Linked DNA regions of Homo sapiens: regions 1 and 2 are each linked to region 3. The links come from fine-mapping of genetic effects on gene expression. A gene starts in region 3. Each other region holds a variant in brackets. All regions are shown on one strand. Distances are between the middles of the regions.

Region 1 (9,686 bases), 18 kb before region 3:
AGCTGGTCAGAGAAGTCGGCTGCCTCTGGACCCCCTGATGTTCTTTCCCTGTAATGGGACCCAAAAGCCAAAAATGAGGGCTGGAACCACAGCACTTGGAGGCTGTGCCAGCTCTTTGGAACTTCCTGGAGGCTCCTAGGTCCAGACCTGTGCCTCTCTGCTCCCTTAACTACTTCCCGCGCAGTGCTGTGTAGCAGTTAAGAGGATGCACACTACAGCCAGCTGCCTAGGCATGAGTTTACATAACTTCTCTGGGCCTCAGTTTCCTCAGAGTAAAATAAGGATAATAATAGTATCTATCTCATGGTCCAAGTAAAATACTTAAAATGTAGATAAATACATAAGGGAGTATCAAACACAGAGTAAACACTCAGTAGCGGATGGCTATTACATGTGTGTAACTGATTTAGATACCATTTTTTTAGCCATGCAGTCACACTGAAGTCTCACAATCATTCTTGGGTGTGGTTAGCCTGATCCTCACTTCACTAATGAGGTAATGGAAGCTCGGAAGAGTTAAGTGTCGTCGGTGGAAGAAAGAGAATTTAGGTCTCCTGGCTCCAAATTCAGGGCTGCTCTGTTAACAACTGCAGCAGCGTCCAAAAGGGCTGAGTTGATGCCACCAACCAAGCACTTACGGGAGGAACTCCAGCCGGAATACACAGCTCAGCAGCAGCTCATGGGTGAGGTACTCACTTCCGGGCAGCAGCCGGCTCAGCAGGGCCAAGGCCATACCATGATAGAGGGCAGCATGGGTGGCTGGCAGTGGCTGCAGCGCTGCCTGCAGACAGAAAAGCAGGGAACTACCTAGTACAGGAGAAGGGGACGTGGCAGAGAGAAGTGAGGAAGAGGATAAAAGTGAGGCTGAAGGGCAGAGGTCCAGGGCATGTCTGGAGGAAAGTGGGAGCTGCATGGCCTGGCAGAAGCAGGCTGGGTTCCACAGAAACAGGAAGGAGATAATGGGATGACAGGAGAACCTGTCAGACAGGGGGACCTACCGCTTTCTGGGCCAGAGCGAGTGCCAGGTACTGCAGGTGGTACTCATGGCGCAGGGCCCATGCAGAGAAAGGTGTGAGGTGTGGGGCAGCCCCAGGAGCCACACACTGGAGGAAGTAATTCTGGAGTCCCGGGGCAGCCAATATGGCAGCCAGCTGAGGAAAAGCAATTTTGTTCAGATCTAGAAATTGACTCTCATGCCTTCTAGGGCTCCCCAGGTGGCTGCCCCTCTCCAGACTCAGGGAAATGAGTGCCAGCAGAAGGCCTCCCTTCCCCATGGGACACCCTCCCACTTTCTTTTTGGTTTTTTTTGAGATGGAGTTTCGCTCTTGTTGCCCAGGCTGCAGTGCAATGGTGTGATCTCAGCTCACCGCAGCCTCCGCCTCCCGGGTTCAAGTGATTCTCCTGCCTCAGCCTCCCGAGTAGCTGGGATTACAGGCATGTGCCATCATGCCTGGCTAATTTTGTATTTTTAGTAGAGATGGGGTTTCTCCATGTTGGCCAGGCTGGTCTCGAACTCCCGACCTCAGGTGATCTGCCCACCTCGGCCTCCCAAACTGCTGGGATTACAGGCGTGAGCCACCGCGCCCATCCCACCCTCCCACTTTCTTTCTGATTCCTGCCATCTTGGCCCCTTGCCTGGCCCCTAATCAGGCACCCCACACTTACCTGGCCACACAGCCCCTTGTGGATCTGGGCCAGGGTATTAAGAAGAGAGAGGAGGGCAGTGAGGAATGGGAAGGGTGAGGCTGAGCCAGCCAGACTGAGACGGGGGCAGCCTCCCGAGCAGCCCAGTGACACGAGGCTGGGGGGAGCTTCAAGGGCTGGCACACAGGACAGCGGGTTGCAGAGAAGGGAGCAGTGCCTGTAGGTGAAGTGGAGAGTCTGAGGGGGACTCTGGCCTGGCGTGTGCCAAGCTGGAAAGAGCTTCTGGGTCTGTACCTAAGACTAACGGGGGGCCTGGCTGTGGAGGTCAGTGCTGCTCACACTCCTCAGAGCCCACCCCACTGCTGCCTGCTAGGGACTCGGGTTTCCCTCGGGCCGAGGGCCTGCACCCTGGGATGGACCTGGGAGCTGGACCCAGGAATCCCACAAGGAAAGAAATTGCCTCCTCCCCTGCTTCCCCCAGCTACCAAACACAGTACATACCTAAGGGAATCCCACAGGCTGCCCAGTGTGGGCTGACTCAGCAGTGGCAGCAGCAGCTCCTCTGACAGGCGCTGCATGTCCTGGAGCCAATCCTCCGGGCATGAGCTTGGCTGGTGGACCAAGGAATTCACTGAGCTGATGGCCCAGCCATTCATTCTCCTAGACCCTGTGTACCCAGGCCAATGCCACCATCCCAACAGCCCAAAAGAGCACATTTGGAGGCTTCTGCAGGCTGAGCCTTCTGAAGGGAGAGAAGGCCCCGATGTGTAGGGGGCATAAAGAGGGAGCACACAGGCTACAGGAAGGCTGAGCTGCTGCGTGGGCTCTCTGGTCCCCACCAACATGGCTCCTGGGAAGCTCCACGGGGATATGGAGGTAGAAAGAGGAGGAAGGGTAGGAATTAAAAGGGAAGATAGTAAATGGGGAAGTAGGAGTGGAGAGATGGACACAGAGAGGGAGCAACGGGTGGAATGTAGCTGAAGGCAGGGTGCGGGGGCCTGGTGGACAGCCGGCAGGAGGCACTCACTTGCTGGCTCCAGGCCTGGTAGTAGGCTCCCAGGAACAACAGGCAGGCAACGGGCACTGGGCCCACGGCTCTCCACATCTCAGGTCTGGACAGCAACTTCAAGGTCTGCCTTAGACACGGCTCAACAAGAGGCTGGAGCCCAGACACCTGTGTCCAAGTGACTAAGGAAGGGGTGGCCGAGAGGCTGGCCTCAGCAGAATCACTACAAAAGTGCCAAAGGG[T/G]GCCACAGTGAGGATCTGGCTGCCTCACGCCCCTTTACACTCCAGCCACCCCAGCCCTGTGGAGGAGCCCTCCACCTGTCCTGTGGGTCCTGGCTATAAACTACCTGATGGTTTCAGCAGGGGTACTGCCGGCTGCCAGGGTTAGCTGGGTGAGGAGAGTGAGCAGTGAGGCTATCCGCTGCATGGACAGGGGTTGAGGTGGGTGGGTGCTGAGCTCCCGCGGCACCACCTGCAAGGCCCGCATCAGCACTGGGTAGAGCTCCCTAGGGAAGAACAGGGACTGATTTTCACTGTATGAAAGCAAGTGGAGACATGAGACACAGGTCATGGCCCTGACCCAGGGATCTGCAGTTTGATAAAGGAGGATGAGGAGGAAGAGTGGGGCACTCTTGGAAGGCTCAGCCCTAAAGAATGGAAAGGATGTTGTCCTTCAAGGCTGCCCCCAACAGGGAATTTAAATGTGATTTCACAGATACCAATGCTTTTTTTTTTTTTTTTTTGAGACATTCTCTGTTGCCCAGGCTGGAGTGCAGTGGAGTGATGGAGTGATCTCGGCTCACTGCAACCTCTGCCTCCCAGGTTAAACCGGTTCTCCTGCCTCAGCCTGCCGAGTAGTTGGGATTACAGGTGTGTGCCACCACGCCTGGCTAATTTTTGTATTTTTAATAGAGACGGGGTTTCACCATATTGGCCAGGATGGTCTCGAACTCCTGACTTCGTGATACGCCTACCTTGGCATCCCAAAGTGCTGGGATTACAGGCATGAGCCACAGTGCCCGGCTAATGATTTTGAGCATAGAATACGGTTAAGCCAGGTTTATCCCCCTCTTCCCTGGCTGGGCCTGACTCCTAAGCCTTTTCACATCTGGCAGAAGCCCTCCCACTCATTCTTATCCTTCCTCCAAGCTTGGGACCTTGAGCAAGGCTGAGGTGTTTGATTTGGCCAGAAGAGCAGAACTGAAGGTGTCTAGGGGGAGCCTACCCCCTGCCTCTCCTCACCTGTAAAGGTAACCGCCCTGGCCATAGGAGGCAGCCACAGCCCACAGACGGAGGGCCTCGGTGCTCAGCATCTCAGCTTCCTCTGGGGGCAAGGCCAGTTCTTGGGGAGCCTCAGCTATGATGCGGCACAGGCGGCTCCGGAGATCAAAGCTGCTCAACTGGAAATGGGCACAGTCTGAGGATCAGGGTCAGCTGTGAGTCTCAAGTCCAGCTACTCTCAGCTGGACAGAGAGTGGCTTAACTCAACCCTGACCCAGGCCCCTCTGGTGCCACAAAGTCATACCTCATCCACCCTGCCCTTCCTTCTTATTATTTATTTAAAATTTCAATTTTATTATTTTACTTTTTATTATTTATTATTATTTTGAGATGGAGTCTTGCTCTGTTGCCCTGGCTGGAGTGCAGTGGAGTGATCTTGGCTCACCACAACTTCTGTCTCCCAGGTTCAAGAGACTCTCCTGCCTCAGCCTCCCAAGTAGCTGGGACTACAGGCATGCGCCACCATGCCCGACTAATTTTTGTATTTTTAGTAGAGACGGGGTTTCATTATGTTGGCCAGGCTGGTGTCGAACTGCTGACCTCGTGATTCACCCACCTCGGCCTTCCAAAACGTTGGGATTACAGGTGTGAGCCACCGCACCCAGCCCCTATTATTTTTTTATTTTTATTATTATTATTTTTTTAGATGGAGTCTCGCTCTGTCGCCCAGGCTGGAGTGCAGTGGCGCAATCTCGGCTCACTGCAATCTCTGCCCCTCCAGGTTTAAGCAATTCTCTGCCTCAGCCTCTGGAGTAGCCGGGATTACAGGCGCATGCCACCACGCCTGGCTAATTTTTTGTATTTTTAGTAGAGACAGGGTTTCACCATCTTGGTCAGGCTGGTCTTGAACTCCTGACCTCATGATCCACCTGCCTTGGCCTCCCAAAGTGCTGGGATTACAGGTGTGAGCCACCGCGCCCGGCCCTATTATTTGTTTTTAGATGGAATCTTGCTCTGCCACCCAGGCTGGAATGCAGTGGTGTGATCTTGGCTCACTCCACCCTCCATCTCCCGGGTTCAAGCAATTCTCCTGCCTCAGCCTCCCAAGTAGCTGGGACTACAGGCGCACACTATTATACCTGGCTAATTTTTGTAGTTTTAGTAGAGGTGGGGTTTTGCCATATTGGCCAGGCTGGTCTCGAACTCCTGACCTCAAGTGATCCACCACCTCGGTCTCCCAAAGTGTTGTGATTACAGGCGTGAGCCACTGCACCTGGCCAGTAGTAGTATTTTTGAGACGGGGTCTCGCCCTGTTGCCTAGGCTGTAGTGCAGTGATTGGTGCAACCAGCCCACTGCAGCCTCCACCTCCCAGCTCAAGTGATCCTTCTACCTCAGCCTACCGAGTAGCTGAGACTACAGTCATGTGCTACCACATCTAGCTAATTTTTTGTTTTTGTTTTTTGTAGAGACAGAGTCTTGCTATGTTGTCCAGGCTGGCCCCTGAACTCTTGGCCCCAAGTGATCCTCCTGCCTTGGCCTCCCAAAGTGCTGGGATTACAGGCCTGAGCCACTACACCCAGCCCTCCCTCTTTATAGCAAGGCTTGCTGGGCACCTTCTCTAGGGCTACTTGGCTATAGATGATGAATGCCTATGTGCATGAAGCCCTTCTGATCTGGGTCTAGGGAACAGGGAGACCTCCTATTACATCATGAGACCACAGTATACCTATATGATGCACCAGGCTCCAGTAAACAGGCTCCAGTAAACAGGTTCATGCCTGGTGATTTCTGTTGCATTTCTAAGCAACTGGATCAGAGAGGAAGAAGATGGCAAGAGCTGGCCACCCAGAGTTCAGGAGCCATGTTTAGCTCCCAACCCAACCCTGTCCCATGCATTCCCCCATCCCTTGCCCTGTGTCCTGCTCACCAGCCGGGCAGCAATATTCCTCCCAGCTGAGGCCAGGACACGAAGTAGTTTCATGGCAGTAGCACAGGGTACTTTGTATAGACTAGGGGTAGGCCCTGCCCCCACAGGAGACCAACTGGTGGGCAAGAACTCTCGAACTATAGTCTCTATCAGCCGAGGGCACTCCAGGACCTATGGGAGACAGGAGGTAAAAGGGAGGAAGGGAGGCTGTGGGTCAAGACAAGGCCCAGCTAGGCTTTTTGCCCATTCCCTGCTCCCTTTTTTCTCACCCTTGTGGCTGATTCCAGGGAATGCCGGGCCAGGCGGATGAGCACAGCCAGGATGTCAAGGACCACCGCAGGTCCTGGGTATGTCACCTCCAGCACGTAGCGCAGCCGAGGCAGCAGGCTGGTAGCCAGGAGCCCCTGGGAGTTGGAGAGAGAAACCCACTGACAAATGCAGCTGGACCCTGGGCATTGATGGCCCCTCTTTCCAGCATGTGCTTGTCCCCTGGGCCATGGGATGGGAAAGAAGCTGTCCCTTTACCTTGATGACATCATGTCGGGCCAGGTCAGGTGGAGGCCGGCTTTCTTCTTCAGGGCTTTTCCTTTTTGCTTTTCCTGCTGGGCATTCTTCATCCTCGTCCTCATCCTCCTTGTCCTCCTGGCTGGGCATCAGAGGGAACGTCAAAGCTCCATGGTACCAAGAGAAGGTGCTGTCGAGGAGCTCCTGCCAGAGGAACGGGAGTTGGGGGGCAATGCTGAAGGGGCCAGGAAATGGATCCAGGAGTAGAGAGGATGCTCCCCAATAAAAACCATAAAGGCAAGCCTCCTGGGCTTTAGGGACTTTAGGAGATGAGGGAGACGCCTGCCATCCCATTCTACATCTTGCCCGCAAAGCCTTAGCAATGGGGCCATGCCCAGGAACAGGAATATGGACCCTGGCACCTCCCAGCCCAAGCCCCATTCCTATCCCTGTGGTACCTCATCTCCAGGAGCCACCAGCAGAGCCCGAAGAGCACGGATGGCGGTTGCAATGACCCCATCCACTCTGTCATCCAAGGAGAAGCGCAGTAGGAAGAGGAAACCAGCATCCAAAAGGAGGCTTAAGACACTGCCTGCTAGCCGGTCCCCAAACTCACCAGCCTGGGCCTGAGGGCAGGAGGGTAAAACCTTGCTGAAGATGCTGAAGTTATCTAGAGGCTTTGCCCTAATCCTTCGTTTGCCCCCCTATGATCCTAGGTTGTTAAAAGCACATAGCTGGCTAGTGAGCCAGAGTGAAAAGGGCAGGAGATGGGGAAGTCTGAGGCTGTGGGGTGAAGGGAAGGGTGGGCAGGACCAGGCTGGCAATCCACTCACCCTGCTGATGACCTGGGCTAACACATGCAGTGCCAGTGCTCTCTGCTGGGAAACCTGGCTGCGGGTCAGGTGGAACAGCTCCTGTAGGGAATACCCCGCTCTCTGGGGCAGGGACAAGAAGTCAGAAGCAGCCAGGATACAGCACAGTGCCCCCAAAACACCAAGCAAGGTATCACAGGAAAGACAAAGATAAATAAGTGAAATCTGCCCTGCTTTCCATGGAGCCTCAAGCCGGTAAAGATAAGACTTGCATACAAGTAACCATGCCATGAGGCAGATGCAGAGGAACGTGATAACTGATGTTTAATTTGCGACCGGCGGACAGGAGAGAGAGAGAAGGGAACCTGGAAAATTAAATTGGTCTCAGTGGATGGGTAGAGCTTTGATGGCCTGACATGGAGCAAAAGGCAAAGGCATTTCCTGGAGCGAGTGGAGTCCTGGAGGGCCCTGAGCACAGGAGGTATGTGGGGAGAAGCCAGCAGAGTGGTGTAGCAGGAAGTGAAGGAGGCAGAGCAGCAGGGTCAGCAGGGACAAAAGGTAGAAGGAATATCTTGCCCAGCTGAGACCAGAACCTTATTTTGTGAGCAGAGGGAAGCTGGGAAACTTCTGGAGGCAAGGCATGGCCTGAGCTGGGCCAGAAGAAATCAGCACAGCAGCCCCGAGAGACATGGAATGGCAGGGGGGCGGAGAATGGAGGGCATGGAGAGTGAGCAGACCAAGGAAGCAAGGCCACAGTGCAGGAGGCATCATGAGGAGGTGACAGAAGATCGGCAAATTCTAGCAACTGACCAGAATACGGAGAGAGGATCAAGATTTTGAGCCTAAGAAACTGAATGCCACGCCTGTAATCCCAGCACTTTGGGAGGCCGAGGCAGGCGGATCACAAGCTCAGGAGATCAAGACCATCCTGGCTAACATGGTGAAACCCCGTCTCTACTAAAAATACAAAAATTAGCTGGACGTGGTGGCATGCGCCTGTAATCCCAGCTAGTCAGGAGGCTGAGGCAGGAGAATGGCTTGAACCCAGGAGGTGGAGGCTGCAGTGAGCCAAGATCATACCACTGCACTCCAGCCTGGGCCAGAGCGAGATTCTGTCTCCAAAAAAAGAAACTGAATGCACAGCAAAGGCATGAACTAGAACAGGGCACACAGAAGGTCAAAGGCAGTTGACCAGAGATCCTTTTCCATGGGGTTGTTAAAAGAGCTGCCCCATCCTCTCCAGTCCCATGCCTCACCTCTGCCTCCTCTCCATGGTGGTGCAGACCCAGGTGGGTGGGCAGGTCCACGTCAGGGGCCAGTAGTTCTCCCTGAAGACTGAATCGAGCCTGCATCCTCTAATGGGAAGAGAAAGAGGACTGTGGTCTGGGGGCTCCAGCAACCTTCCCACACCCACTCCCCACCTTTAATCCCAGGCCTTTCAGGACTTAGGTACTGACTCTACTTCTACCAGAAATGGGGCTTATCTGGCCTTGGGGGCCAGGCAGAGTGATGGTAAAGGTGGGTGAGAGCAAAGGAGAGATGCTTCTCAGGCTCTGGGCAATAGAAAGGCCTGAGTTCTGAGGGCAAGAGCAGCAGCTCCTCTCCTGCCCTATCTCACCCACCCCTTGTAGGCCAGGTGGCCCTCCTCACCTCCTGTGTCTGCTGCCGCCGGACAGGGGGCAAGTCCTGGGTCCAGTGGAGCTTCTCCAGCTCGACAGTGTCCATGTGCAGCCATTCTTTCTGAGGGGTCACGGGCAATGCCAGAGCTGGGGAGACAAAGCATGATAGTATTACCCAAACGGCTCAGCTCACTATCCACAGGGGTCCCCACCATCACCCAGCAGCTGCCACATCCACTTCTGTTCCAGGATCTGCCAGCTTCTACCCTCGGTTATGGCTAAATGGCATGGCCCAGGGACTGGAACTCCTGGGGCTGGGGTGAAAGTCTCAAATATGACAGACACACTCCATCCTGGGCTCCAGCCCCTTGCTGACCCCAAGGATTTGTTGGGAGGGGAGAGAGGAGGAGAAGGAGAAGGAAGAAAGAGAAAGAAAGGAGAAAAAGATGAAGAAGGAGGACCACATATGTCAGGAAGGCACCATCTCCACTTTCCAGTACCAGCCCTTAAAGGAGTAGGAGAGTGGGGACAATGAGGAGGAGGCAACTATACTGCTCCTGGGGGGCAGGATACAGAAACAAATCCCACAGCATTTTCCTCCTTCACGCCTACCCCCACCCAACCTGCTCAGCTGGCCTGGAGCTCCTCCGGGGGCATGAGGTTCCTGGCTCTCATAATTCAATTTCTTATTTTGTTAATCACTAATGAAATAATCTAGTTTCTGGGAAATGAGTGCTTCCACTGGCCTCTCTGCTTCTGGTCTGGCATGTTCATAAGATCTTTGTCAGATTCTGCCTCTCTTATTACTCTGGCCCTGCCATCTTTCCCCCAGCACTGTGAGCAGAGAGAGAAAGAACAGTGGGATGGACAGAGCCAGAGCTGGGGCAGCTACAGCAAGGACAGGAAGATAGTCTGCCGGGAGCGGGTGGAGTGGGATTCAGCCATCACGCATT
Region 2 (9,953 bases), 34 kb before region 3:
TGGAAGGGCTGTTCCTTGGGGAGGGAGTTGGGATGGGGGTCCCCTGAGCCAGGACTGCTCCTAACCTGTGGATGAAGTGATTTTCCTCCAGGTAGTGGCAGCCCTGGGCTATGTCCTGGGCCAGTTGCAGCAGGTCCCGCATGACCAGAGGTGATGGCTGGCCCTGGGTCAGGCAGAGGGGGCATCAGTCCATGTAGGTCTCAGACACATGGACAGGGTCTTTAGAGGGGCCTGGGGGGGCTAAGACAAGGGTCTCACCAGGTGTGGCCGACTGTGCCTCAGGAAACTCTTCATGTCCCCTCCAGACATCAGTTCCAGCAGAATGAGGCGAGGGGTGGCCCTGAGGCTGAGCCCCACACACCGCACAATGTTCTGATGGCGAAACTTGCTGAGTGGGGTGGGGGACATATCCCGTTACCAGGAGGGAGACGGAAACCATGTTTTAGGCTCCACAAAGCTGGAGAGGCCCTCTGTGTCCCCTGACTTGCTACCTCAGCCTCAGGGTGAAGAGAAACTGTTCCCGGGCATTCCCCTCCCGCCTTCCAGCCCTGCCCCTGGTCCCAGGTGCACCTGATGATGAGGGCCTCCATGAGGAAATCCAGCTCATCCTGAGGCGAGCAGAGTTCTGGCAGGGTCTGGGGAGGAAAAGGGCACAGTTTCTGAGCTGCCCTGCACGCTTCAGGAGAGGGGGTTAACCCTAGCTCTAGTCATTGTCCTTCCCTTCAGGGTGTTCCGCTCTCCTACCCCCAGCCAGAAGTCCCACTCCTCTCACCTTGATAGCTACCTGCAGGGGACTGGAGTCCCCAGGAAGGCCAATTACCAGTCCCTCATACACCTCCCCAAAGGCACCATGGCCCAGGGCTCTGCAGGAAGACACGTTGGAAGGGAGTGGGCAGGCGGCCTGGAGAAGAGTCCTAGAGAGTCTAGTACCCCCTTTACCTCCCCTGCCCCTGCCATATGCCCAGCTGACCCTATATAGACTCTCTCCATACCATGGCATGTCCCCAGGTAGAAGCCCTGCAAGGGTGGTGCTCACTGGCATAGAGCCAGGGCAAAAAAGAGGGCAGATGCGGGCCAGAGTCAAGGTGGGAGTGCATGATGAGGACTTCCCTGGTCCCTGCAGACGCCCTGGGCGGGAGGCAATCCCTGGGCTCCAAGAGTCATGATTTTTTTTCTTTTTTAAACGAAGTCTCACTCTGTCATGCAGGCTGGAGTGCAATAGCGCGATCTCGGCTCACTGCAACCTCTGCCTCTCGGGTTCAAGTGATTCTCCTGCCTCAGTCTCCCGAGTAGCTGGGACTACAGGCAAGCGCCACAACGCCCAGCTATTTTTTGTGTTTTTAGTAGACACAGGGTTTCACCATGTTGGCCAGGCTGGTCTCGAACCCCTGACCTCAGGTGATCCACCTGCCTTGGCCTCCCAAAGTGCTGAGATTACAGGCGCCAGATCATATTTTTTTTTTATTGAGACAGAGTCTCACTCTGTCGCCCTGGCTGGAGTGCAATGGCGCAATCTCGGCTCACCACAACCTCCGCCTCCCAGGTTCAAGTGATTCTTCTGCCTCAGCCTCCCACGTAGCTGGGATTACAGGCATGCGCCACCATGCCCAGCTAATTTTGTATTTTTAGTAGAGATGGGGTTTCTCCATGTTGGTCAGGCTGGTCTCGAACTCCCGACCTCAGGTGACCTGCCTGCCTCGACCTCCCAAAGTTCTGGGATTACAGGTGTGAGCCACCACGCCCAGCTGAGAGATCATATTCTAAGAACTGGGACGGAGAGGTGACATTGAGCAAGTTACTTCCCCTTCTGGAGCTTCTCAGGGCCTCCCTCTCCCTTACACAAGGGATGTGGGCCAGATTTTTTCTGGGACTTATAATTCACTACAGCAGGGAGAGAATCAGAGGTGGGGATTCAGAGTGCATAGGTTCTCAGAAGGAGGCAGAAGACTTACCTGAGCAGAGTAACATTGGCTGGGGAAACCTCGGTGACACCTGGTGGCAGAGGCCAGGACTGGGCCGGGCCAAGCCCCACCTGGCAATAATAGGGATTGGGGGCTGTCCTGATGGCAGAGGTTCGAAGCTTGCTCAGCTCAAGCTCAGGGCTCGGCAGCCTCATCTCCTGCAGGCCCTGCCACTTCTTCTGCTTCACTGGGGGTGGGAAGAATAACGGCACACCCTCCACCTGCCCATCAACTCTCCCTCCCCCACCTGCCCAGGACACCCCTCCAGATGCTCATTAAGGTAAACGTTTTCCCCAGGCCTCCCCAGCTCCTTCCTATCTTAGAATCCCAGAGGAGTCTACCACGGCTCTGCTGCGGTGAGTGGTCTTGAAGTCAGCCCCGGGACCCCGCAGAAACCCATCCCAGCTCACTGGAGAGGAGCAGCCTTGAATCAACTGTGCCTGCTAGACGCTTCGTACCCAGAATCAGGACCCCACACACCATAAGGAGGCTCAGTGTTGAGGTTGCCACCACAGCCACCATCAGAACCAGAGGGCCTGGGGGCTTGTGCAGGTCTAGGGAGAAAGAGAGACACCTCCAGTGGGAAGGTCTTCTCTGTTCCTTTACCCTCAAGTTTTACCCACGCTTCAAGACTCAGCTCAAGTGTTAATTTTTCCATGATGCCTTCCCCCATTATCCTGGGCAAAAGCAACCTCTCCCTCTTGAACACCCCTAAAGCACTTTATACCTCCCACAACAATCGTCACTTGAGATATACATTTACATAGCTATATCTAAACATCCTCCCACACTGGACGACAGGCCTCTGAAAGGCACTGTGCACCGATGAATCTCCAATCCCCTGCCCAGCACCCACCACAGGGCCTGGCACACAGCAAATCTCTATACCATCTTTCCCAGTGGCCTACTGCTCCTCCCAGTCTGTGACCCCAGGAGTCCAGACCTTGGGCAAAGGTAGGACATACCCATGCAGGTGACGTTATCCACAGCTAGCTCCATGCCTTCTGGGCACAGGCATTCAGCCAGCTGGAGCTCTGCCTGCCATTGGCAGTCTCTCAAAGGGCAGTGACTGCAGTTGAGGTGCCTTCGGATCTCTACCTCTCCGTGGTTCTCGGTGACTGTGAGTAAAAGAACTGATATGATATGGTGTGGTAGGGCTGGGATATAGTAAATACATGCCTTTGGCTGGGTACAGTGGCACACGCCTATAATCATTGCACTTTGGGAGGCCGTGGTGAGCGGATCACCGGAGGTCAGAAGTTCAAGACCAGCCTGGCCAACCCCGCCTCTACTAAAAATACAAAATTAGCCGGGTGTGGTGGCGCACGCCTGCAATCCCAGCTACTCCAGCACTGAGGCTGCAGAATCACTTGAACCCGGGAGGCGGAGGTTGCAGTGACCCAAGATCGCACCACTGCACTCCAGCCTGGGTGACAGAGCGAGACTCTGTCTCAAAAATAAAAATAAATAAATAAATAAATAAATAAATAAATAAATAAATACATGCCTTTTCCAGCCACATGGTTAATTCTAGCCCAGGACTTTAGAGCAAAGAGCAGCACCAAGCTTACAAGGGTGGTGAGAGAAGCTGGGGGACTTCTGTCAAGCCTGCACACTCCCAGGTATTTGAAGCGAATTCATAGCAAGGGGGTACTTGAAAAGCACGCAGCATGCCCTGCATTGCCATCCAGCACGACTGGCAGCCCACTTTCCTTTTTTTTAAGACAGAGTTTTGCTCTTGTCGCCCAGGCTGGAGTGCAATGGCATGATGACAGCCCACTTTTCAAATGACCCTATGCTATGCAAGAATCCTGTGCTATGCAAGGTTATTCACAGTGCAGGTGGCTCTTCAGTGCAGTGCAGGAGTGGGCTCAGGGACTGCGGAAGAAGTCCAGGCCAGGCTCAGAGGTGGGGTTGGGGCCAATACCTGCCAGAGGCTGCAGGAAGAGCTCGCTGCTGGGGTGTATGAAGGATACTCCATCTTCCCCATCAGCCCAGAGGTTGTCAGTCTCTGAAGCGTCGCCCCCTGGAAGTGGAGAGTGATGGAGAGTTTGACTACAAAAATGGGGGATGGGGGAGAAGCTGGAATCTCCCGGTGGAAATCCCAGTGTGGCCCTCTCTTCTCCAGCATCATGATGCAAATGCTGTCTGTTCACAAGTGGGAGTGAAGGAGGTGAGGAGGGGGTAATCAGCTGGAGCCTGAAGGCCTC[G/T]CTGAGGCTGGCTGGGATGCCTCCTGCCTGCCTGAGCCCCTCCTGTCCCATGTCCTCACAGTCCCTTTCTGTGAGAATGTAGATCATGTGTGTATGTATGAGCAGTACAGCCCAGACAGGCACAAAGGCATTTACACTAGTTATTTGATCAAAACACAGATGACTGGGACTCTCCCTTACAGTTTCTGATTCAGTATGTTAGAGAAGGGCTGAGAATTCGCATTTCTTTTTAAAAATTAATTTTTAATTAAAAATAAAAATTCAGGGCCAGGTGTGGTGGCTCACGCCTGTAATCCCAGCACTTTGGGAGGCCGACATGGGCGGATTACGAGGTCAGGAGTCCGAGACTAGCCTGACCAACATGGTGAAACCCCATCTCTACTAAAAATACAAAAATTAGCCGGGCATGGTGGCGCATGCCTATAATCCCAGCTACTCAGGAGGCTGAGGCAGGAGAATTGCTTGAACCCGGGAGGCGGAGGTTGCAGTGAGCTGAGATTTGTACTACTGCACTCCAGCCTGGGCAACAGAGCCAGACTCCATCTAAAAAAAAAATTCATATATTTATTGTATACAGCATGATGTTTTGAAATATGTACACACTGTGCAATGGCTAATGCAAACCAATATATACACCACCTCACATGCTTATTTTCTGTGGTAAGAACACCTATAATCTACGCTCTTACCAATTTTCTTTTCTTTTTTTTTGAGACAGAGTCTTGCTCTGTCACCCAGGCTGGAGTGCAGTGGCACGATCTTGGCTCACTGCAACCTCCGCCTCCCGGGTTCAAGCGATTTTCCTGTCTCAGCTTCCCGAGTAGCTGGGACTACAGGCATATGCCACCACGCCCGGCTAATTTTTGTATTTTTAGTACAGATGGGGGTTTCACCATATTGGCCAGGCTGGCCTCAAACTCCTGACCTCAAGATCCACCCGCCTCCGCCGCCCAAAGTGTTGAGATTACAGGCGTGAGCCACCGCGCCCCGCCTCTCTTAGCGATTTTCAAGAATACATCGTCATTAACTACAGTCACCATGTAGTACAGTAGATTCTGGAAGGTATTCCTCCTATTTAACTGCCATTTTGCATTGTTTTGACCAGCATCTCCCCAACCTTCCCCCAACTCCCAGGATAATTTCCATTGTTTTTTTTTTAATCTTTGAGACAGAATTTCCCTCTTGTCGCCCAGGCTGAAGTGCAATGGAGTGATCTCGGCTCACTGCAACCTCCGCCTCCCAGGTTCAAGCAATTCTCCTGCCTCAGCCTCCAGAGTAGCTGGGATTACAGGCTCCCGCCACCACGCCCGGCTAATTTTTGTATTTTTAGTACAGACAGGGTTTCACAGGTTGGCCAGACTGGTCTCGAACTGGTGACCTCAGGTGATCCACCTGCCTTGGCCTCCCAGAGTGCTAGAATTACAGGCGTGAGCCACCAGGCCCAGCTGATAATGTGCATTTCGAACAACTTAGGTTGTGGGGATATTACCTGTTCCTGGACCACACTTTGAGAACCACTGACTTAACCCAATCCTGCCTTTCTGCCCCTTTGCTCAGCTTGCTCACTCGGCCAGCTCTAAGTTCTGAAGACTGCTGCAGAACAAGGCAGGGACCTGCTGTGATGGGAAAGATCCTGGATTAAACGGAAATCTAGGGAGTCCTGTCTGCATGCTGATTTGCAGTGTATTTGACCTCCTTTTCTAAGAGCTCCTGCTTTTTGTTTGGAGCTGCTGAGCAGGGCTTAATGCCTCTCCCACACCTATCCTCCCGAGGGCTCCGGCCTGTACTTAGGTTCTAACATCACCTCACCCTCGGGCCTGCTCAGCTGCCCTCTCCAACGGTGCACCTACCCCTGTAGCCGCCGCCGCCTCCGCCCGCAGTGCAGGCCCCGCCGCCGCCCCCGAAGCCGCCGGCCGCGGCCCAGCCAAGGGTCGCCCAAGCCTCGGAGCAGCCCTGGCCGCCCTCCGCCCCCTCCTGCAGTGAGCGGCCGGCCTGCGGAGAGGGAGCCCGCGACGTCCAGCCGCCCCCACCACCTGCAGAGCGACAGCAGGAAGGTTGGCAGCCACACGGGGAGCACGCCCGCCTCTCCCCGCGGCCCGCGCCCTCACCTGCCGCCCCGCCTCTCCCGCCGCTCCCGGGCGCCTCCGAGCGGTTCTCCAGTTTCTCGGGGGAGGCCTGAGTCCGGCCTCGGTCCCGCGGCCTCAGGTAGGCCCGACCGCCGCCTCCGGCCGCCACCAGCAACGGTTCCAGCTCGCCAGCGCGCACCTGTGGGGCCAGCGGCGTGTTCCAGGAAGCGCCCTCCAGCTGTCCAGGGGCACTGCCACTGGGAGAGGGCTCCCGCCCAGGGGGCCTGGATAAGGGCAGGGGCCCCCAGCCCAGCCCAGGCCAGCCCAGCCCAGCGCAGGGATAGGGGGACCCCAAGGGACGGACGGAGAGCCGGTGCGTGAGCGCCCCTGGGGAGAGGATTGGGACCCCAACGCTGAGCGCCGAAGGGAGCACGTACCCGGAAAACGTAGGTGGCGCCCCCGCCACCCCCGCCACCTCCCGCCCAGCGCCGCGACCCCGGGACCCCTTCGCTCCCATCCATCGCCGCGTGCTCTTCAACGGCTCGAGACTCCCCGAGGCAGACGAGCTGGCTCTCCGGGCTACCCTGCGGGCAGCGGGGGAGGGAATCGGCGGGGCCCGGGAGCCTCCCCTCGCTGTGCTGGTGACCCGGCACCGAGGAAAGCACGCTCCCCCGGCCCCCAGGCAGCCCTCGCCCCCGGCGCCGGCGCCGCCCCATCCCCACTGGCTGCGCTCACTCCGGGACAGGCGTCCTCTCCCTGCTGCCCCACCAGGATGTACAGCGACTCCCCGAGACCGAGGGAGAAGATTGCTGAGACGAAGACGCCATGCGCCCGCGACAGGTGGTTCTTGGCGCCTTTGCCGCCCGCGGCTCCGTAGGCTGAGATCCTGCGGGGAACGGACGGTGAGTCCCCGGCCTTCGGTGCTCAGGCCGGCCGCTCCGGGCAGAAGTTGGCGACAGAGGAGGCTCCAGAATTATTTTTTATCTGAGGGACTTGGAGGCTGCAATCGACTCTGACGGGATGGGAAGGGTAGGTTTGCACACCGAAAAATCAGATATTACACTTATTTCAGGAGGGTTCGTGGAAATGTGGGGAGGCTCAAGCACCCCTTGGCGCCGCCCTGGTTGGGGGCCTTCCGCTCGGTGTAAGAGGTTCCGGGTAAGGGCTAACTCGGTGGCGACTACTGCCACCTTGAAGGGCACTCAAGGTGGACCTCCCCGCGGAATAGTCCAAGACGCAAGTCGGTGCGCACGTGGACTTCGTTACCCTGAGGGTGAAACCTCCAACTAGCAGGTCACTGTCCACCCTACCTCCGCCGTGCACTTACAGATACTGGCCAGGGCCCGGCACGCGCCACAGCTGCACGCCTCTCAGCTGCCCGGCGGCCCCCACGGTCACCACCACGCTGGTCCCCGCGTACGCCCCGTCACATTGTGTCTGTGTGGGCCCATGCCGGCCGCTGGCCCCGCAGGTAGAAAACAGCCAAGACCCCTCGGTGCCTGAGAGCAAGGAGCGAGGCAAGGGTCGTCGAGCCCCTGGCTGGGCCAGAGGGGTCTGGTATGGTGAGCGAAAGAGGAAGGAGGCGTCTAAAGCTCACCCGGAGAATTCAGCGGGGAGGCTGGCTCCAAGATACTAGGCGGGGCGCTGACTTTCGGGTCCCGGGGGCTGGGACTTGCCAGCGGCAGGGGCGAGGACCGCAGAAAAGTCTCCTGGGACCCCGGGCTAGAGCAGAGAATGGCGCCTGAAAGGTGTTGGGAGAAGGCGCAGGACGTTAAGGCGGGTGGAAATAGGATATGAAAGAAAGAGAGAACCCCGCAACAGCTGCCCTTGCGGTCGCGGCCACACCCGTCACCCGGCCCAGCCGCGCTCTCAGCCTGGAAGCCACTACCCGACTCCGGTCGCAGAAGCCCCGCGGGTGCGCGCTGATAGGTCTGCCAGTTTCTCTCCTCGAGCGCCTTTCCCAGTGAATAACTTAGGGGCCGCAATGAATTTGGTCCTGCAGCCTCCCCAATGCTTTCCTCAACTTAGATTGGTGGCCCCGCCCCAAGGCGGTGCTGAGACCCCAAAGAATGTTCCTCCTTCCCAAGCTGCGTGATCCAGACTCTGGGATTCGCACGCACTTGGCGCTTCTCGGCCCGCACTCCAGAAGCACGGACCGGAGAAATTTGGCTGTGAGAGTTCGAGGCCTCTGGAGGAACCACTGACACCTGGCCTGTTGACCGGCCACCCCCAAGCCTAGGAAAGTGCCTCAGGCTGGACGGTCCCCTGACCGCCAGATAGCACTTACCCGCGGCTCCGAACCACACCAGCAGCTGTCCCCAGCAGCCCATCCCTGTTGGGTCCACCCGGCAACAAAAGCCCTTGCGGTCGCGGCCACACCCCTGTCAACCTAAAGTTGACAGCTCATTTTGCCACGGCAGCCCTGGCCACCACTTACAGGGGTGTGCTGCCGCTGGCGAGACACTCCCCGGACCTAAAGCTGGTCTGGCCACGCCCACCTCAGACCCCAGGACGCCAGAGGAGGAAAGGGAGGGGCGTGTGGGCAGCGAGGTCCCTACGCTTCCGGGAGGAGCCTTAAGGAGTCCCCACCCAGGGGTTCTAGTTTCCAGCCGTCAGATGTGCCGCAGCCTGCTGGGAGCTCCGGTAGGTTTGAGGCCGGAGAGGAGGTGCCCCACGCTTAAAGTGGGAGCCACACCTCGGACACCAGGTGGGGGCTTCCAGGTTCCTGAGGACAGGAGCAGTGGAGTGTGCACTTCATTTGTGGCAGTGGTGGTGGTGGTGAGTGTGTGGCATGCGTCACCACACGTGGGAAGTACTCTAAACTGCTCCAAGTAAGGCCTCATTACCTGCCATTACTTGTGCCTTTTAGTGGTGCCTTTGTGACTGCAAGGCTGAACCTCATTGCTACTCCCAGAAACCTGGATCTCTGTGTTTGCCTCATATAATTCCGTTGCCTGTGTTACCCCTGTGCACAGCCTCTCACTGTGATGGGGTGAAAGACTGGACCAGACGTTAGAAGATCCGAGTGTTTTTAGTAGCACTGAAGGTCAATAGATGATAGGTAGGTAGACCGATCGATCGATTGATCTTGAGCACTAGTACTGGCACCTCTGGTCAATGGGTGATGTAGCACAGGCCACAACTGCCCTGAGAGTTTCCCCACCACCTGCAAAATCATATGAAGGGAAATTGCTCTGTAAGGTACCCTACAAATGTGGGAGCCACTCCCTTCAGGTAGTTTTGTGTCTTGAGTCTTCGATCATTTGCTTAAATGATCATTTGCCGGGTGCGGTGGTTCATGCCTGTAATCCTAGCACTTTGGGAGGCTGAGGCGGGCAGATCACCTGAGGTCAGGAGTTCGAGACTAGCTAGACCATCATGGCAAAATCCCGTCTCTACTAAAAATACAAAATCAGACACACGTGGTAGCGCACGCCTGTAATCCCAGCTACTCTGGAGGCTGAGGCAGGAGAATGGCTTGAACCTGGGAGGCAGAGGTTGCAGAGACGAGATCGCACCATTGCACTCCAGCCTGGGCAACAAGAGCAAAGCCCCATCTCAAAAAAAAAAAAAAAAAAAAAATCCTAACTTGAAAGTCTGAGACCTATGTTTAATACAAAATACTTCAAAAGAGAAGTTATAGTAGTTAGCTACTTGGTAAAGTCTGAGTATAATTCAAGGTGTAAACAGAACAGTGATTTTGTAAAAAGTCTGGT
Region 3 (9,953 bases):
TAGATTTACAGATTTATATAGATAGTATGAACAGTTTCCATATGTAGTCTTCACCCAGTTTCTCCAAAGGTTAAGACTTTACGTAACCATGGCACAAAGGCAAAAAAGAAATTAACATAGAGACCTTACATTTATTTGTCAACAAAAAGGAATGAAGTTCCAATGCACAAACATTGAAAACATTATACTAAGTGAAAGAAGCTATATGACTCAGAAACATTTTATTTAGTGAAAAGAAAGAAAGAAGCTAGCCAAAAAGGACCTCATATTGTATGATTCTGTTCATATGGAATGTCCAAAATAGGCAAATCCATAGAGACAGAAAGTAGATTAGTAGTTGCCAGGGGCTAGGAGAGCTGGAGGGAAATGGGAATTGACAGCTAATGGGTATGGAGCGTCTTTTTGGAGTAATGAAAATGTTCAACCTTGTGAATATACTAAAAGCCATGAATTGTAAACTTTATTAATTTATTGTGACAGAGTCTGGCTCTGTCACCCAGGCTGGAGTGCAGTAGCGTGATCTTGGCTCACTGCAACCTCTACCTCCTGGGCTTAAGCCGTCCTCCCACCTCAGTCTCCCAAAAAGCTAGGACTACAGATGCACCACCACACTCAGCTAATTTTTGTTTTTTTTTTTGTTTTTTGTTTTTTGTTTTTTGAGACGGAGTTTTGCTCTTGTTGCCCAGGCTGGCGTGCAATGGCGCGATCTCGGCTCACTGCAACCTCTGACTCCTAGGTTCAAGTGATTCTCCTGCCTCAGCCTCCTGAGTAGCTGGGATTACAGGCGCCCACCACCATGCCTGGCTAATTTTTTGTAGTTTTTCAGTAGAGACAGGGTTTCACCATGTTGGTCAGGCTGATCTCGAACTCCTGACCTCATGATCCACCTGCCTTGGCCTCCCAAAGTGCTGGGATTACAGGCGTGAGCCACCGTGCCCCACAATTTTTGTGTTTTTTACAGAGACAGGATTTCACCATGTTGTACAGGCTGGTCTCGATCTCCTGGGCTCAAGAAATCTGCCCACCTTGGGCTCCCAAAGTACTGGGATTACAGGCCTGAGCTACTGCACCTGGCCTGTAAACTTTTAAAATGATGAATTCTGGCCAGGCTCGGTGGCTCACATCAGTAATCCCAGCACTTTGGGAGGCTGAGACAGGTGGCTCACGAGGTCAGGAGTTCAAACCAGCCTGACCAACATGGTGAAGTCTCTACTAAAAATACAAAAAAAATTAGCCGGGTGTGGTGGCAGGTGCCTGTAATCCTAGCTACTCAGGAGGCTGAGGCAGAAGAATCACTTGAACCTGGGAGGCGGAGGCTGCAGTGAGCCAAGATCGTACCACTGCACTCCAGCCTGGGCGACAGAGTGAGACTCCGTCTCAAAAAAATAATAATAATAAAATAAAATGATGACTTCTGTGGTATATAAACTATAAATCAATTATAAAACAAAAAACGCTGGGCTGGCCAAAGATATCTGCAAGCTGGCTGGCTAGTTTTGGAACCCCTGAGCTAGATGCTGATAATAATAAAAATATTGTTATATCTAACACTTATTGAGCACTTAGTATGCACCACATACTGTTCTCTAAGCACTTTTTCCATATTCATTCATTTAATCCTCATAACAGCCTAGGAGGTAGGTTACTACTATTTTTTTTTTTTTTGAGATGGAGTTTCACTCTTGTTGCCCAGGCTGGAGTGCAATGGCACGATCTCGGCTCACTGCAACCTCCGCCTCCCAGGTTCAAGCGATTCTCCTGCCTCAGTCTCCCTAGTAGCTGGGATTATAGGCATGTGCCACCACGCCCAGCTAATTTTGTATTTTTAGTAGAGACTGGGTTTCTCCATGTTGGTCAGGCTGGTCTCGAACTCCCGACCTCAGGTGATCTGCCCGCCTCTGCCTCCCAAAGTGCTGGGATTACAGGCGTGAGCCACTGCAACGGGCCAGTTACTACTATTATTCAAATTTTACAGCTGAGAAAAGAATAGTGCTGAGAAGTTAAGTATTTGCTCAAGGTCTCAGTGTAAGTGTGTGCTAGGATTAGGATTCAATCCCAGTCAGTCCATGCTCTTACCCACTATGTTCTACTGCCTACTGCTGTGTGGTGCCTGGGTGTCCTGGAAGTCTGGAATAGTGAGGCAGATGGGGAAGAACTATAAAGAATCTCCTGAAGAGCAAAGGCTGCAACTACACTAAGGTTTCTCAATAGGGACTATTGATCTTTATAGCTGGGTAATTCTTTGCTGTGGGAAGCTGTCCTGCGCACTGTAGGATGTTTAGCGGCATTCCTGGCTTTTACCCACTAGACGTCATCATCAAACCTCCTCCCCTAGTTGTGACAAGTAAAAATGTCTGCAGACATTGCCAAATGTCACCTCAGAAAAAAATCACCCCCAGTTGAAAACCACTGAACCAGACCTTGAAGGATAAGATAGGCCTCCAGCCAGAAGGGAGAGCTGGGCAAAGGTATAGAAGCAGGGAATAGGGCCGGGCGCAGTGGCTCACACCTGTAATCCCAGCACTTTGAGGCTGAGGTGGGTGGATCATCTGAGGTCAGGAGTTCAAGACCAGCTTGGCCAACATGGTGAAACCCCATCTCTACTAAAAATACAAAAAAATTAGGCAGGCGTGGTGGCATGTGCCTGTACTCCCAGCTACTTGGGAGGCTGAGGCAGGAGAACGGTTTGAACCCAGGAGGTGGAGGTTGCAGTGAGCCAAGATTACACCACTGCCCTCCAGCTTGGGTGACAGAGCTAGACTCCATCTTGAAAAAAAAAAAAAAAAAAGCAGGGAATAAATATGGTACATGGGAGAACATGATGAAGTTGACCACCTCCTAAAAGTTGAAGGAGGATGAGATGGAGAGGTAGACAAGCTAGATAGCTGGAACTAACAATAGTGCTGAATGAAGGCCGGGTGTGCTGGCTCACGCCTGTAATCCCAGCACTTTGGGAGGCCAAGGCAGGCAGATCACGAGGTCAGAAGATCGAGACCATCCTGGCTAACACGGTGAAATGCCGTCTCTACTAAAAATACAAAAAATTAGCTGGGTGTGGTAGCACGCGCCTGTAGTCCCAGCTACTGGGGAGGCTGAGGCAGGAGAATGGCGTGAACCCGGGAAGTGGAGGTTGCAATGAGCCAAGATCGTGCCACTGCACTCCAGCCTGGGGGACAGAGCATGAGACTCTGTCTCAAAAAAAAAGTGCTGAATGACACATTTCCTTACTTTTTCTTCATCTACTTCTAAGCAGGATCAGATCTAATAACTAAGCCAGCCTTGGAAACACCTCCCAACACAGGGGTTGGGGGCAGGCTAAAGGGGTAGAAATGGTGAAACAATCACATGACGGTGTGACCTTAAGAACATTATCAAAAAATTTTTTGAGAGTTTACTCTGGGCTGAGCGGTGTACAAGGGGCTGTAAATATAAAGAAATGGGAGTAAAATCCAGTCCCTGGGTTCAAGGGGCTTACTGGGGAGACAGAGACCATGCCGAAATGCTGGGTCTTTTAATAATTTCCCACTTCATTATCTCTCTTTGCCCACACAAGTCTAGAAATTCCAAAGGTTTACAGTTTAAATGATGTCTCCAAGATTGTAAAGGTCTTCCTTTGGTCAATGATGTACCCAAAGTTGGGGTGAGAGAATATGGTAAACACACATATAAATTTACAAGGCAGTACATCCCAGTGATGAAATTAATTGCATAGAAGATCAGTGCTACACGATTTCAGAGGTGGGAAAAATCCCTAAAGGTTAAAAATAGAGGTCAATATTGAAAGAGAAAACTTAGATAAGTAGAGAACTGAAGGAAGTGGATGAAGTGAGCAAAGACCTGTCTACAAAATTTCATCTTAAATTTGGCATAGAACTTGTATTAATTACTATTTGTAGCATGACAACAGCGAAGTATACAGATGTGCCTTTTCCTGGATGGGAGGTAAACAGTATGAAAATGGACTGCCTGTGTTCAAATCCAGGCTCTGCCATTTACTAACTGTGTAAGCTTAAGCAAGGTATTTTACTGAAGTTACTGTGCTTGTTTCCTCATCTGTAACATGAAGATAACTGTACCTACCTCCTGAATTAATTATATATATGTAAGAAGATTAGAACAGAGTCTCATACATGAAAGGACACAAACGCCAGTTATGATTCTTATTATTTATATAGCCAAAGGGCAGATAACCATATCTAATTGTTGGGCAGTCTGACCAACAAACAAGGAAAAAGTCTCCTACCCCAATGCCTACCCAAAGGCCCTAAGGAAGGCTGAACTAGATGAACTGAGAATCCATAGTATGGTAACAATTCACTCCTATAAGAGTCTACATAAGCAGAAACAATTCCTACTTATCCATGGATTCATGTGATCCAAAAGCAAAGTCCAGCTCACTTCATAGGGTGCGCCATACCTACATCACAAAGAGAGCCAGGGGGTTATGGGCACCAGTTTTGGAATCAATAGGCCAGAAGTCAAATACCAGTTCCGCTACTTACTAAATGCACTAAATGTGCGAAATTAGGCAAATTATCAATGCTGTCCTTTTTTTTTTTTTTTTTTTTTTTTTGAGACAGATTCTCCCTCTTGTTGCCCAGGCTGGAGTGCAATAGCACGATCTCGGCACACTGCAACCTCCGCCTCCTGGGTTCAAGTGATTCTCCTGCCTCAGGCTCCCGAGTAGCTGGGATTACAGGCGCCTGCCACCACGCCCGGCTAATTTTTTGTATTTTTTTAGTACAGACGGGGTTTCACCATGTTGGCCAGACTGGTCTCGAACTCCTGATCTCAGGTGACCCGCCCGCCTCGGCCTCCCAAAGTGCTGGGATTACAGGCGTGAGCCACCGTGCGCGGCCTCTATGCTGTCTTAAGTCCCATTTCCACAACTGTAAAATGTGAGTAACAGGTCCTATATAATAGGAAATGTGTGAGGATTTAAATGACTATACACGCAAAACGCCTAGCCCAGTGCCTGTTACTTATATAAATAAACCTCAGTAACAATTATTTTAGTCCTAAGTAAAGCCACCAGTGTGTTTCCCCACAAATCCAGCGCAGATTTGTCCAGAACCAATCAGTGCTAGAAGTGATAACATTTTCAGTTATTAATAGAATAAGAATGGGTTGGCCGGGCGCGGTGGCTCACGCCTGTAATCCTAAAGAGTAATGCCTAAAGAGTAACTCGTAAAAAAAAGTAGTCCTAACAATGGACCTCTGGGTTTATGTTGGCCTCTGAGGAGTCTCTGGGGCTCTTACATTGCAGCCTATCCTCCAGAGCCAGGATCCAATCCCGAGTCGGGACGCGTGACTGCCCTTACCGCTCAGGTCAAGGGCTCCAGTTAAGCCTCCTGGACCACCCAACTCTACAATGAGGAATCATCGAGTCGCAGCTTTCGCCGCCCGTTGAAGGGCCGTGCCCGAGATCTATGCACAGAGGAGGCCACAGTTGCTCCCTTACAGACCAAAGGCCCGCAGGCAGGTTCCAGCAAAGAAACTGGACACGCTACCCTGGGTCCTCCTCCCAGATCACCTGAAATCCGTCCCTCCAGCCCCGCCACCTACGTGCTCCAGGCCTGTCTGGGCGCCGCCATCTTGCCCCGCAGAGATCGCGTTTCCGCCGCCGCCAGATTCCAGCTTCCGCCCCGCAGCCCAGCCCCGCCTCTCCCGGTCTTATCTCGGAGCATTCTGGGCTTTGCTTGTTCAGTGCAGCGGACTGGTGAGCGCGGTGCTGCGCGGCTGGCGGTTTATTACCCCCACGTAAGCTCTATACCATCACCCAGAACACACATCCTTTTTTTTTTTTTTTTTTTTTGAGACAGAGTCTTGCTCTGTCGCACAGGCTGGAGTGCTGTGGCGCAATCTCGGCTCACTGCAACCTCCGCCTCCCGGGCTCAAGCGATTCTTGTGCCTCAGCCTCCCGAGTAGCTGGGATTACAGGTGCCCGCCACCACGTCTGGCTAATTTTTGTATTTTTAGTAGAGACGGGGTTTCACCATGTTGGCCAAGCTGGTCTCGAACTCCCGACCTTAGGTAATCCGCCCGCCTCGGCCCCCCAAAGTGCTGTGATTACAGGATGTGCCACCGCGCCTGGCCCACACATGCTTCTGATGTACAGCAGGCACAGCCCCTTCTGCACTTACGACACCCCTGGCAGGGACACAGCGTTCCTCAGACGTCCCTCTGCACTCACCAGCCAGTGTTACCACATCCCACATCCCAGCACCCACGCCCACGGCAGCACACAGAAACGTGGACACACACACACACCCCAACGTGACGAATGTGTTTATGGAAGAGCTAGAAGGTAACCATGAAAAAGGCCCAAGGAAAGAACACTGCCAGTGTGCACTGCAGAAATAGTGGTGGTGAGAAGAGAGGGAATAAAGCTTCCTTGCTAGCAAGGTTATCATCTTCTCCAGAATCTTGCCTTTGTTCATCCCACTCTCCCTTCTTGGAAATCCTCCCTCTTTTCCCTGCCACCCCTGTCTCCAAAGGATAACTCTTTAAGGCCTAGCTGGCGTCAACTCTAAAACCTCTGCCAGCCACGCCTACTCACCAAACTTTCCTTGGATTCACCTGGAATCTCACCGCCTGCACCAGTTGTGTGGTATGCTAAGAACACACTGCCAACTACCAACTGTCACCGGTTACCTTTTCACAGGCTTATGTCCTGTTCCCTTGAATAGACTGTCAGTTCCTTGTGGGCACCAGACCTTGTACTTTGCATCTAAATACTGAGCACCCAACGTGTTGCCATGCACATAGTAGGACCTTAAGTAAATCATTTCTAGACCAAAGGACATCATGGGGCAGCCAATGTTAGTCCAGTGGCTTTCCAACTTTAACAGGCACCAGAATCAACTGGAAGTCTTGTTAAACCAGATTGCTGGGGCCAGGCACAGTGGCACATGCCTATAATCCCAGTACTTTGGGAGGCTGAAGCTGGCAGATCACCTAAGGTCAGGAGTTCGAGACCAGCCTGACCAACATGGTGAAACCCCATCTCTACTAAAAATATAAAAATTAGCAGGGCATGGTGGTGTCCATCTGTAGTCCCAGCTACTCAAGAGGCTGAGCCAGGAGAATCACTTGAACCTGGGAAGCGGAGGTTGCAGTGAGCCAAGATGGAACCACTGCACTCCAGATTGGGCCACAGAGCCAGACTCTGTTTCAAACAAAACGAAACAGATTGCTGGGCCTCAACCTCTGAGTTTCTGATTCAGTAGGTTTTTCTTTTTCTTTCTTTTTTTTTTTTTAAGACGGAGTCTTGCTCTTGTCGCCCAGGCTGGAGTGCAATAGCATGATCTCGGCACACTGCAACCTCCTCCTGGGTTCAAGTGATTCTCCTGCCTCAGCCTCCCGAGTAGCTGGGATTACAGGCGCCCGCCACCATGCCCAGCTAATTTTTGTATTTTTAGTAGAGACGGGGTTTCACCATGTTGGCCAGGCTGGTCTCGAGCTCCTGACCTCAGGTGATCCACCTACGTCAGCTTCCTAAAGTGCTGGGATTACAGGCATGAGCTACTGCACCTGGCCTGTTTCAGTAGGTTTCCTTTTTTTTTGTGACAGAGTCTCGCTCTGTCGCCCAGGCTGGAGTGCACTGGCGCAGTCTCAGCTCACTGCAACCTGCACCTCCCGGGTTCACACCATTCTCCTGCCTCAGCCTCCTGAGTAGCTGGGACTACAGGCACCTGTCACCATGCCGGGCTACTTTTTTGTATTTTTAGTAGAGACAGGGTTTCACCGTGTTAGCCAGGATGGTCTCCATCTCCTGACCTCGTGATCTGCCCGCCTTGGCCTCCCAAAGTGCTGGGATTACAGGCGTGAGCCACCGTGCCCAGCCGATTCAGTAGGTTTCTAATAGAGCCCCAAAATTTGTATTTCTACCAAGTTTCTAGGTGATGCTGCTGGTCCCGCACTATAGCAGATCTATAATCCTCTTGGCTTCAACTACAGATGTAAATTTCGGCTACTAGGATTTAGTCATCTTGAGGTCCAAAATAGTACTAGACCTGGTCAGAAGTTATGGAGGCAGCGGGATGAGGGAGAGGAACTGGAGCCAAATATGCAGAATGAATGATAGTAGAAAATAATTGTTCGCAATGAAATAACGAGATAATGGCTCCTGGCAATGGTGCCACCACGCCCAGCTAAGTTTTGTATTTTTAGTAGGGACACGGTTGGACCATGTTGGCCAGGTTGGTCACGAACTCCTGACCTCAGGTGATCTGGCCTCCCAAATGCTGGGACTATAGGCATAAGCCACCATCCCCAGCTCCAGCATTCTGTTTTAACAAGCCTTCCACTTAATTTTGGTGCCTGCTAAGGTTGGAAAACACACCCAGCCTCATATAAAGTCTTCATCAACCTTTGACCTAATAGTTTTAACAGTCATTGTTTAACAACTAGGTGAAAGGTTGATGCAGACTTTATATGGATGGATCAGGTTGCCATTATATGAACTTACTGATGAATCTTTTCTACTGTTTTGAGATAGGGTCTTGCTCTGTTGCCCAGGCTGGAGTGCAGTGGTGCAACCTCAGCTCACTGCAACCTCTGCTTCCCTCTGCTTGCTGAGCTCAAGCGATTCTCCTGCCTCAACCTCCTGAATAGCTGGGATCACAGGCCTGAACCAAACGTGGCTAATTCTTTTATTTTTTGTAGTGACAGGGTTTTGCCATGTCACCTAGTCTGGTGTCAAACTCCTGGGCTCTAGTGACTCACCCGCCGCAGCCTCCCAAAATGCTGGAATTACAGGCATGAGTCACTGCACCAGCCGAGACTATTTATTTATTATTTATTTTATTTTATGTTGTTGAGATGGAGTCTTGCTCTGTTGCCCAGGCTGGAGTGCAGTGGCATGATCTCGGCTCACTGCAGCCTCCGCCTCCTGGGTTCAAGTGGTTCTCCTGCCTCAGCCTCCTAAGTAGCTGTGATTACAGGCGTGTGCCACCATACCTGGCTAACTTTTTTCTTTTTTTTTTGAGACGGAGTTTCGCTCTTGTTGCCAAGCTGCAGGGCAATGGTGTGATCTCGGCTCACTGCAAACTCTGCCTCCTGGGTTCAAGTGATTATCTTGCCTCAGCCTCCCAGGTAGCTGGGGTTACAGGCACATGCCACCATGCCCGGCTAATTTTTGTATTTTGAGTAGAGACAAGGTTTCAATTCACCATGTTGACCAGGCTGGTCTCATACTCCTGACTTCAGGTGTTCTACCCACCTCGGCCTCCCAAAGTGCTGGGATTACAGGCGTGAGCCACTGCGTCCAGCCAATTTTTGTATTTTTAGTAGAGACAGGGTTTCACCATGTTGGTCAGGCTGGTCTCAAACTCCTGACCTCAGGTGATTTGCCCACCTCAGCCTCCCAAAATGCTGGGATTACAAGTGTAAGCCACTGCACTGGGCAGAGACTATAACATATGAAATGCGGTCTTTGTTTATATCTTCATTTTTGAAACTGTTTTTTTGAGACTGTTAGGGAATACTAAATATAAACTAGATTTTGTATGATATTAAGGATTTACTTTTTTTTTTTTTTGAGATAGGGTCTTGCTTTGTCACCGAGGCTGGAGTGCAGTGGTGCTGTCATGACTCACTGCAGCCTCGACCTCCTAGGCTCAAGTGATCCTCCCACCTCAGCCTCCCAAGTAGCTGGGACCACAGGTGCATGCCACCACACCCAGCGAGGATTTATGAAATTTTTATTGGGTAAGACTATGTTTTTTTGTTTCAAAGACTGGGTGTGGTGGCTCATGCTTATAATCTCAGCACTTTGGTAGGCTGAGGCAGGAGTATTGCTTGTGGCCAGGAATTCAAGACCAGCCCGGGCAACGTAGGAAGACCCTGTTCTATAAAAAAAATTTTTTTTAATTAGCTGGGTGTGGTGGCACCTATAGTCCTAGCGATGCAGCGGCGGGGGAATAGCTTGATCCCAGGAATGTGAGGCTGCA

The links. PIP is the estimated chance that this variant, and not a neighbour inherited with it, causes the effect.
Region 1: its variant is the best candidate, but not a certain one, in a credible set for the expression of RPAP1 in hippocampus (GTEx, PIP 0.83).
Region 2: its variant is the best candidate, but not a certain one, in a credible set for the expression of RPAP1 in cerebral cortex (GTEx, PIP 0.86).

Annotation. Positions count from the first base shown.
Region 1 is chr15:41,521,100-41,530,785 of GRCh38, forward strand. RPAP1 (RNA polymerase II associated protein 1) reads right to left here. Exons shown (of 25, transcript NM_015540.4): 8 at 8,765-8,880; 9 at 8,371-8,469; 10 at 7,136-7,237; 11 at 6,761-6,928; 12 at 6,324-6,506; 13 at 6,068-6,202; 14 at 5,799-5,969; 15 at 3,892-4,049; 16 at 2,997-3,155; 17 at 2,672-2,873; 18 at 2,146-2,255; 19 at 1,666-1,861; 20 at 999-1,151; 21 at 639-781; 1 more. Among named protein-coding and RNA genes, the nearest start is that of LTK, 12 kb to the left of the region's middle. The variant T/G (reference allele first, on the strand shown) is at 2,893.
Region 2 is chr15:41,505,143-41,515,095 of GRCh38, forward strand. It overlaps LTK (leukocyte receptor tyrosine kinase), which reads right to left and starts at 8,685. Exons shown (of 20, transcript NM_002344.6): 1 at 8,525-8,685; 2 at 7,835-7,978; 3 at 7,565-7,736; 4 at 6,973-7,123; 5 at 6,675-6,821; 6 at 6,280-6,436; 7 at 6,022-6,204; 8 at 3,889-3,987; 9 at 2,927-3,079; 10 at 2,420-2,515; 11 at 1,953-2,148; 12 at 773-863; 13 at 571-635; 14 at 259-388; 1 more. The coding sequence starts at 8,567. RefSeq lists an enhancer at 7,517-8,264 and a silencer at 7,971-8,050. The variant G/T (reference allele first, on the strand shown) is at 4,172.
Region 3 is chr15:41,538,654-41,548,606 of GRCh38, forward strand. It overlaps RPAP1 (RNA polymerase II associated protein 1), which reads right to left and starts at 5,604. Exons shown (of 25, transcript NM_015540.4): 1 at 5,566-5,604. RefSeq lists a silencer at 4,164-4,364 and enhancers at 4,844-5,425, 5,359-5,748.